3 separate regions of the Homo sapiens genome follow, and all the other regions are linked to region 3. The links come from fine-mapping of genetic effects on gene expression. A gene starts in region 3. Each other region holds a variant in brackets. All regions are shown on one strand. Distances are between the middles of the regions.

Region 1 (2,765 bases), 22 kb after region 3:
CCTGGGCTCAAGCCATCTGCCCACCTCAGCCTCCCAAAGTGCTGGGATTATGGGCGTGAACCACCACGCCCAACCTGTAAACATATTTTTAATGCTTTTTTGGATAGGAGTTATTCAGTACCATGTACCAATTCATTACTTCTTTACTTCTATAATGATTATAATCTGCAAATTCAACATATTTGTTATATAATTGGTAGGCTGGTACCAAGATGATAGCTTTTTTGGCTTTTCCTTTCTTTTCCTTATTTTGAAGGATCTTTAGATTCAGAACTCTTTCTGACAATCTGTTACCCAAACTCCTTACAGCGTTCTATTTGTAAGAGGAACTGTCAAGGCCAAATCATCCAGATTTTCTGATTTAGTTTAATATCTTCAAGTGCCAAACCTTAGGGATTTTTTTACTGCGAGTTGTCACGTTCCATAATTTGGCTGGACAAGGATGCTGTAGCAGCCACAGAAACATATGAGACGGTGACTTCAAGTACATTGAAAAGGATGATGTCCCTTCTGTAGGACATAATATTTGATTACAGGTTTTGATCTTGAGGATCAAACAGTAAATGTTTATAAAATCAGTAAAACTGATTTCAGTTCATCATTAAACATATTTGTGAGGAATTTAGTTCAAGGACCTTAATGATAATTCATGTGTCTCTTGCAAGTTTGCAGTGTCTTCCCGGTTGTTATAAAAGCCTTTTTTATACCTGCTTTGCTATTAATGTGTAAAAGAAAAAGAGTATCTCTTAGGCAGGGATTTAACCTTCAACTTCTTTGCCTCAGTTTCACTCGTCGGGAATCCACTCTGTCCTTGCTGTTACTCTAGAAGCAGTGAATGCCTAGGCTAGTGCCGTTGTCTCCTGTCTTCTGAGTATCTCAGTTTTAAAAGTTTGGTTCACAAAATGAGATGTTAAATGTGCTTTTGCGGACTACACAATTAATGCTCCAAGGTCACTATTTTGGACAAACTCAGTGATCTTTTCCCTGCTGTTTTTCATTGTCATGACTTTTCTGCTATATTTATTATTTAGTAGTTTCATTTTCTTGAAACATTCTCTTTTGCCCTGTAATGTTTTTCTTCCTGGTTTTCCTATTAAATTTCTGTTTTAGCTGTCTTCTAATGCGTCTTCTAACTGTGGATATATCTCAAAAATTTAGTTTTGGCCTTAATTTTAGGTCCATAATACCCACCCATCAAAGAGATTTTTGTTTTTTCTCTATTATTTCTGTGTGGATTACTCCCAGTCTGCTATAACCAGCCCCTTATTACCTACCATCTTGAATCTTTTTTTTTTTTTTTTTTT[G/TTTG]AGATGGAGTTTCACTCCTGTTGCCCAGGCTGAAGTGCAATGGCGCAATCTGGGCTCACTGCAACCCTCTGCCTCCCAGGTTCAAGCAGTTCTCCTGCCTCAGCCTCCCAAGTAGCTGGGATTACAGGCACGTGCCACCATGCCCAGCTAATTTTTATATTTTTAGTAGAAGCAGGGTTTCTTCATGTTGGCCAGGCTGGTCTTGAACTCCTGACCTCAGGTGATCCACCTGCCTCAGCCTCCCAAAGTACTGGGATTACAGGCGTGAGCCACCGCGCCCGGCTTACCATCTTGAATCTTAAATTTTAGTGGCTGTAGGACATTTTCATTTTGTGACACCTAGAGATAACATTTTAAAAAACCCATACCATTTTGAAAGCTAAATTTTTGCTGGAATACTCAATGTGAATTATGTGAACTAAAAATTTCTACTTTGGGTTGGGTGTGGTGGTGCATGCCTATAAGTCTAGCACTTTGGGAGGCTGAGGTAGGTGGATCACTTGAACCCAGGGGTTTGAGACCACCCTGGGCAACTCAGCAAGACTCCATCTCTACAAAAAAAATACAAAAATTACCCAGGTGTGGTGGCACACACCTGTGGTCCCAGCTACTCAGGAGGCGGAGGTGGGAGGATGGCTTGAGCCTGGGAGGCGGAGGTTGCAGTGAGCTGAGGTCACGCCACTACACTCTTGCCTGGGCGACAGAATGAGACCCTGTCTCAAAAAAAGTCTACTTTATGTCTGTATTTGATTTGTGCAGGTACTTCCAAGCCTATCTTTGAGAACTTTTAAGTCACCACATTAGGTTTACCTGCTGTATTAGTCCATTTTTACGCTGCTGATAAAGACATACCCAAGACTGGGCAATTTACAAAAGAAAGAGGTTTAATTGGACTTACAGTTCCATGTGGCTGGGGAAGCCTCACAATCATTGCAGAAGGCAAGGAGGAACAAGTCCCATCCTACGTGGATGGCAGCAAGCAAAGAGAGCTTGTACAGGAAAATTCTCCCTTATAATAAGCATCAGATCCCATGAGACTTACTCACTATCACGAGAACAGCACAGGAAAGACCCGCCCCCATGATTCAATTACCCCCACTGGGTCCCTCCCACAATACGTGGGATTTCAAATGAGATTTGGGTGGGGACACAGCCTAACCATATCACCTGCAGAACTGAGGCCCTCACCACGCTAAGTGTGAGCACCCTGTGGTCTCTGGGCAGCAGGCTCCACACCTGGCAGTTTGCTCCTCTTGCTTTGCCTCCTATGTTGGTCCCTGTGTCAACCCTGGTCTAGGACTTTCTTACCTGCTGAACTCTGCCACCAAAGCCACACACTCCACCTGTCATTCCCTACCAGACCCGCTTCCATTTAAAATGCCAGTTTCACAATTGGCTTTTAGGCCCTTAACCCTCACAAACCAAGACTTATATTTTTATTCTTTAGATGTCTCTCAAGAG
Region 2 (2,718 bases), 29 kb after region 3:
GGCCAAAAGTTTTCTTTTTTTTTTTTTTTCTTTTTGAAACAGTCTTACTCTGTCTCCCAGGCTGCTGGAGTGCAGTGGCACAATCTCGGCCCGCTGCAGCCTCTGCCTCTTGGGTTCAAGTGATTCTTCCACCTCAGCCTCCCAGGTAGCTGGGATTACAGGCACCCACCACCACGCCTGGCTAATTTTTGTATTTTTAATAGAGACGGGGTTTCACCATGTTGGCCAGGCTGGTCTCGAACTCCTGACCTCAAGTGATCCACCCACCTCGGCCTCCCAAAGTGCTAGGATTACAGGCCCGTGCCCAGCCCTAAAGTTTTAAACTCTAGGGGAATTAACAGTATTTCTTTACAGAATGGATTTGTTAAACTAGCACAGTAAAAGTAAAGACTATTCTGTTTCTAGGCTGTTGAATCAAAGTGATTTTAGCAATTAAACTTTGTATTAATTTACCACCAATATTTCTTCACAAAGGAACTTTTAAAAGATTATCTCAGAAAGTAAATCTGAGAGGTAAGAAGTAATAATGAGTAAATGGTAAGTACTTGAGTAAATCTAAAGAAATATTGATAGTAAGGCAATCCTAAGCAAAAAGAACAAAGCTGGAGGCATCACGCTACCCAGCTTCAAACTATACTACAAGGCTACAGTAACCAAAACAGCATAGTACTGGCACAAAAACACACGTAGACTGATGGAACAGAATAGAGAATTTAGAAATGAGACCACACACCTATAATTTTTTTGATCTTCGATGAACCTGACAAAAACAAGCAATGGGCAATGGATTCTCTATTCAATAAATCGTGCTGGGATAACTGGCCAGCCATATGGAAAAGATTGAAAATGGACGCCTTCCTTATGCCATATACAAAAATTAACTCAAGATGGATTAAAGACTTAATGTAAAACCCAAAACAGTAAAAATCCTGGAAGACAACCCAGGCAGTACCATTCAGGACATAGGCACAGGCAAAGATTTCATGACGAAGA[C/A]GCCAAAAACAATTGCAACAGAAGCAAAAATTCACAAATGGGATCTAATTAAACTAAAGAGCTGCACAGCAAAAGAAACTATCAAGAGAGTAAACAGACAGCTTACAGAATGGGAGAAAATTGTTGCAAACTATGCATCTGAGAAAGGTCTGAAATCCAGCATCTATACGTAATTTAAACAAATTTAGAAGAAAAAACCACCCCATTAAAAAGTGGGCAAAGGACATGAACAGACACTTTTCAAAAGAAGACATCTGTGGCCAACAATCCTATGGAAAAAAGCCCAGCATCACTGATCATTAGAGAAATGCAAATCGAAACAACAACGAGATACCATCTCACACCAGTCCAAATGGCTATTATAAAAATGTCAGAAAATAACAGATGCTGGTGAGGTTGTGGAGAAAAAGATATGCTTATACACTGTTGGTGGAAATGTAAATTAAATTAGTTCAGCCATTGTGGAAGACAGTGTGGGGATAAAGACAGAGATACCATTCAACCCAGCAATCTCATTACTGGGTATATACCCAAAGGAATAGAAATCATTGTTATAAAGACACATGCACGCGTATGTTCGTTGCAGCACTGCCCATCAGTGACAGACTGGATTAAAAAAATGTGGTACATACACACCAGGGAATACTATACAGCCATAAAAAGGAACAAGACTGACTGGGCGTGGTGGCTCATGCCTGTGATCCTAGCACTTTGCGAGGCCGAGGTGGGTGGATTGCCCGCGCTCAGGAGGTCAAGACCAGCCTGGGCAACACGGTGAAACCCCATCTCTATTAAAATACAAAAAATTAGCTGGGCATGGTGGTGCGTGCCTGTAGTGCCAGCTACTCAGGAGGCCGAGGCAGGAGAATTGCTGGAACCCAGGAGGTGGAGGTTGCAGTGAGCTGAGATCGCGCCATTGCACTCCCGCCTGGGCGACTCCATCTCTAAAAAATAAAAAATAAAATATAAGGAACAAGATCATACCTTTGCCAGGGACATGGATGGAGCTGGACGCTATTATCCTTAGCAAACTAACATAGGAACAGAAAACCAGATACTGCATGTTTTCACTTATAAGTGGGAGCTAAATGATGAGAACTCCTGGATACAAAGAAGGGAACAACACACACACACACACACACACACACCCTCTCACAGACTTAGAATACGTGGCAAGAAAAGCATATAATTTGACATTAGGAGCAGAAGAATTAGTGTGCTAAGGTCCTTGCATTGTCCGGGAGAAGGGGAAAAGTATCAACATTAGACATTGATAAAGGGTCTGCACCTTTTGATTTCTTAACCACTCAAGGATAGAAAAGGGGCATAACTTTAAAATGAAACAGGAAAATGGTGGGCTGATTTTTAAATTTAAAAGAACCGAATACAGCAGGACAGATCCAAAGCACAGAGGAGATGGTGTATTTAACTCCATCCACACCAATCATTACATTACATGCAAAGGGACTGAGGACTCCAGTTAAAATGACAGTTTTAGGCTGGTTTTTAAAATACATATTTGCTGTTTTATTTTTAGAGACAAGGTCTCGCTCCGTTGCCCAGGCTGGAGTGCAGTGGCATCATAACTCACTGCAGCCTCGAACTCCTGGGTTCCAGTGAGCCTCCACCTCAGCCTCCAAAGTAGCTGTGATTACAGGTGTGTGCCACCTTGCCTAGCTGAGTCCCTTGAATTGATAAAAGGTATATACAAAAATCCCTCAGTAA
Region 3 (2,765 bases):
ATCAGCCTGGCCAATATGGTGAAACCCCATCTCTACTAAAAATACAAAAATTAGCCTGGCGTGGTGGCACGTGCCTGTAGTCCCAGATACTTGGGAGGCTGAGGCAGAAGAATCACTTGAACCCGGGAGGCAGAGGTTGCAGTGAGCCGAGATGGTACCACTGCACTCCAGCCTGGGCGAGAGTGCAATGAGACTCCGTCTCCAAAAAAAAAAAAAAAAAGAAAAAAAGAAAAGTAAGTGGGGCACACGATTCAGGCCTAAGCTAACCAGACCAACCTCATTCCTGATGGTTGTTAATGTTTCAGATACGGGCCCGCAGCCCTACGTAGAGAAGAGGCCAAGGTAGAAAACATGAATCTGAGGTAAAAAGAAATGAGGTACTTGTTTGCCTCATCAAGCCTCTCAATTAAACTAACCTTGAAGCCTGTCTTACCTTTGGACTTCTAGTGATGTCACCCGGTAAAGCCCATTTGTTTCAGGACGTAAGAGTTGGGTTTTCTGTGACTTGGAACCAAAACCATTCCAATTTACAAAATGAGCAACTTTAATATTACCCATGAGAAATACTTCATTGGTATATGCTCTTTCCTAGCGTTTTTGAAAACTAAACTAGGTGGGTGAAAAGTATATCTTTGCATGAAACTTTTTCATTCCAGAAAACATTTTGTCATCTTGATAATAATGGCCAATGCTACTATATCCAAATTTTTGTCTTTTTTTTTTTTTGAGACAGAGTCTCGCTCTGCCGCTCAGGTGTGATGGCGCGATCTCGGCTCACTGCAACCTCTGCCTCCCTGGTTCAAGCGATTCTCCTGCCTCAGCCTCCCTGAGTAGCTGGGATTACAGGCATGCGCCACCACACCTGGCTAATTTTTGTATTTTTACTGTAGACGGGGTTTCACCATTTTGGCCAGGCTGGTCTCGAACTCCCGACTTCCAGTGATCCTCCTGCCTACCTCAAAAAGCAACTTGATAAATCCACAGGCTCGGTATATTTTAAAAATTCTTTTAAATACAGTATACTTTTCTCTTTTTTTCCAGAATTAACCATGAATCGCACACACAGCCAGAGGCTTTTAACCCGAGAACGGACAAAGGGGCCTGCTTGTGCAATACAATTATTTTTAATGGTTAAACAAATTAATACATAAGACCAGCTTTACCTAATATAATAATAACGAACCAAAGTTTACAACAGACAAGAAAAGCACCAGCTGTCCCCGCCACCCCGGAGCGATCTCCAAGGGGACGCGGGAGAGCGCCGCGGGGGACGCGGAAGTCTGACGTCACAGGAACTGGGGGCGGGGCGGGGAGGCCCGCACACCCTATTGCGCATGCTCCCGCCTCCCCGGCCGCGGCCTGGCGCAGTGCGCACGCGCGCGGGTGGGCGGGTTTGACTGGCCGTAGAGTCTGCGCAGTTGGTGAATGGCGTTGGTGGCGGGAAAGTTGAGTCTCTCCTGCGCCGAGCCTTCGGGGCGATGTGTAGTGCCTTCCATAGGGCTGAGTCTGGGACCGAGGTGAGAGCCGCCGGGTTGGGAGTGAGGGAGATGGGAACAAGGCCGCCGGTGGGCGAGGGGAGCCGAGGGAACCCGGGGGATTGGGAGGCTTGGGGCGGCGCGGCCTGGCCGGGCTGGGACCGGCCTCTCGGCCTAGACGCCCGCGATGCTGGCACCCTCTGCCACCTCTCACCTGGGCCCCAGGGGTCCGCCCCTGGGCAGCCTGGAGTCCTCCGAGGTGGGAGGACCGGGCGGAGGTGGAGGAAGTCTTTCTTTGGAAGACTTGCTGCCTGCCCAGATCGATATAACATACGAGGTCTCTCCTCCCAAGAGTTATGGTCTAAAAACCCCTCACAAATTAACTACCGTTGGAAATGTCAAGCTATGCAAGAAAAGCTAGAAAAGGGGAGGGGTCGCCCGTTGGAGCATTTGGAGCTTTTCTGGAACAGGTGGTGTTTGCGGAGGTTGCCTCACCTCCCTGTAGCCCACGTGTCTCTGCTTAGGGCAGCTGGCCCTCGCCACCCCCTAGTATTCGTTTCCAGCCCAGGTAGCTCCAGAGCCACACAAGCCGGTGGATGCCCCTCAAGAATTGAACCAAGTGTCCAGCACTTACTGTGTGTCAACTACGTGTTAAGGGATAGGAGTAAGCAACAAAAGACATAACTTCTGCCATTAAAGAACTAGTAAGGGAGGCTGCTGTAAGAATTACAGTATTGCACAAAAGTTTGTTGTCCATTAGAGGGGCGGGCATCATGGAAGATGCAGGAGGAGATGACTGAAGTTTCAAGGACCATTTGAAATGGTTTGGCAAGGAGAGGATGACATTCAGAGCGGAGACAGTCGGGAGTACATGGATTCTGAATTAAGCAAGAGCATGGCTAATTTAGATAACTGCAAGTATTTCTGTAAAATTGGAACAAAGGGAGTGAGGGACAATAGGTTGGGAAGTAAGCGCTGAGCAGTGGGCAGGGTATGAAGGATCTTTTATGCAGATGAGAGAGGAAGCAATCTCAAAAGAGTCAGCAAACATTTTTGTGGAGGGCCATGTGGTAAATATTTAGGCTTTGCAGGCCATGCCGTTTCTGTCACAGCCACTCAACTCTGCTGTTCTAATGGGAAGGCAGTCATAGATAAATAAAGGCACATGGCAGCGTTCCAATAAAGCTTTGTTTTTTGGATTTAGCCTGCTGGCCATAGTTTGATAATCCCTGTTCCTAAAGAGTAGAACCACTGCTTAGTATAAGAACGGCTACAGTTATAAACCATAGA

Direction of the effects. Positions count from the first base shown, and alleles are read on the strand shown. Sizes are in standard deviations (SD) of each study's normalised expression.
In carriers of allele TTTG in region 1, the expression in CD4 T cells of the gene that starts at base 1,417 in region 3 tends to be higher than with G alone (large effect, 1.4 SD a copy in BLUEPRINT).
In carriers of allele A in region 2, the expression in visceral fat of the gene that starts at base 1,417 in region 3 tends to be higher than with C alone (moderate effect, 0.55 SD a copy in GTEx).

The links. PIP is the estimated chance that this variant, and not a neighbour inherited with it, causes the effect.
Region 1: its variant is the best candidate, but not a certain one, in a credible set for the expression of XRCC2 in CD4 T cells (BLUEPRINT, PIP 0.79).
Region 2: its variant is the best candidate, but not a certain one, in a credible set for the expression of XRCC2 in visceral fat (GTEx, PIP 0.64).

What each region holds. Positions count from the first base shown.
Region 1 is chr7:152,652,737-152,655,501 of GRCh38, reverse strand. All of the region lies in intron 2 of XRCC2 (X-ray repair cross complementing 2), which reads left to right. Among named protein-coding and RNA genes, the nearest start is that of XRCC2, 22 kb to the left of the region's middle. The variant G/TTTG (reference allele first, on the strand shown) is at 1,305.
Region 2 is chr7:152,645,725-152,648,442 of GRCh38, reverse strand. XRCC2 (X-ray repair cross complementing 2) reads left to right here. Exons shown (of 3, transcript NM_005431.2): 3 at 1-2,718. Among named protein-coding and RNA genes, the nearest start is that of XRCC2, 29 kb to the left of the region's middle. The variant C/A (reference allele first, on the strand shown) is at 994.
Region 3 is chr7:152,674,793-152,677,557 of GRCh38, reverse strand. It overlaps XRCC2 (X-ray repair cross complementing 2), which reads left to right and starts at 1,417. Exons shown (of 3, transcript NM_005431.2): 1 at 1,417-1,517. The coding sequence starts at 1,479. RefSeq lists silencers at 1,171-1,640, 1,941-2,030 and an enhancer at 1,096-1,940.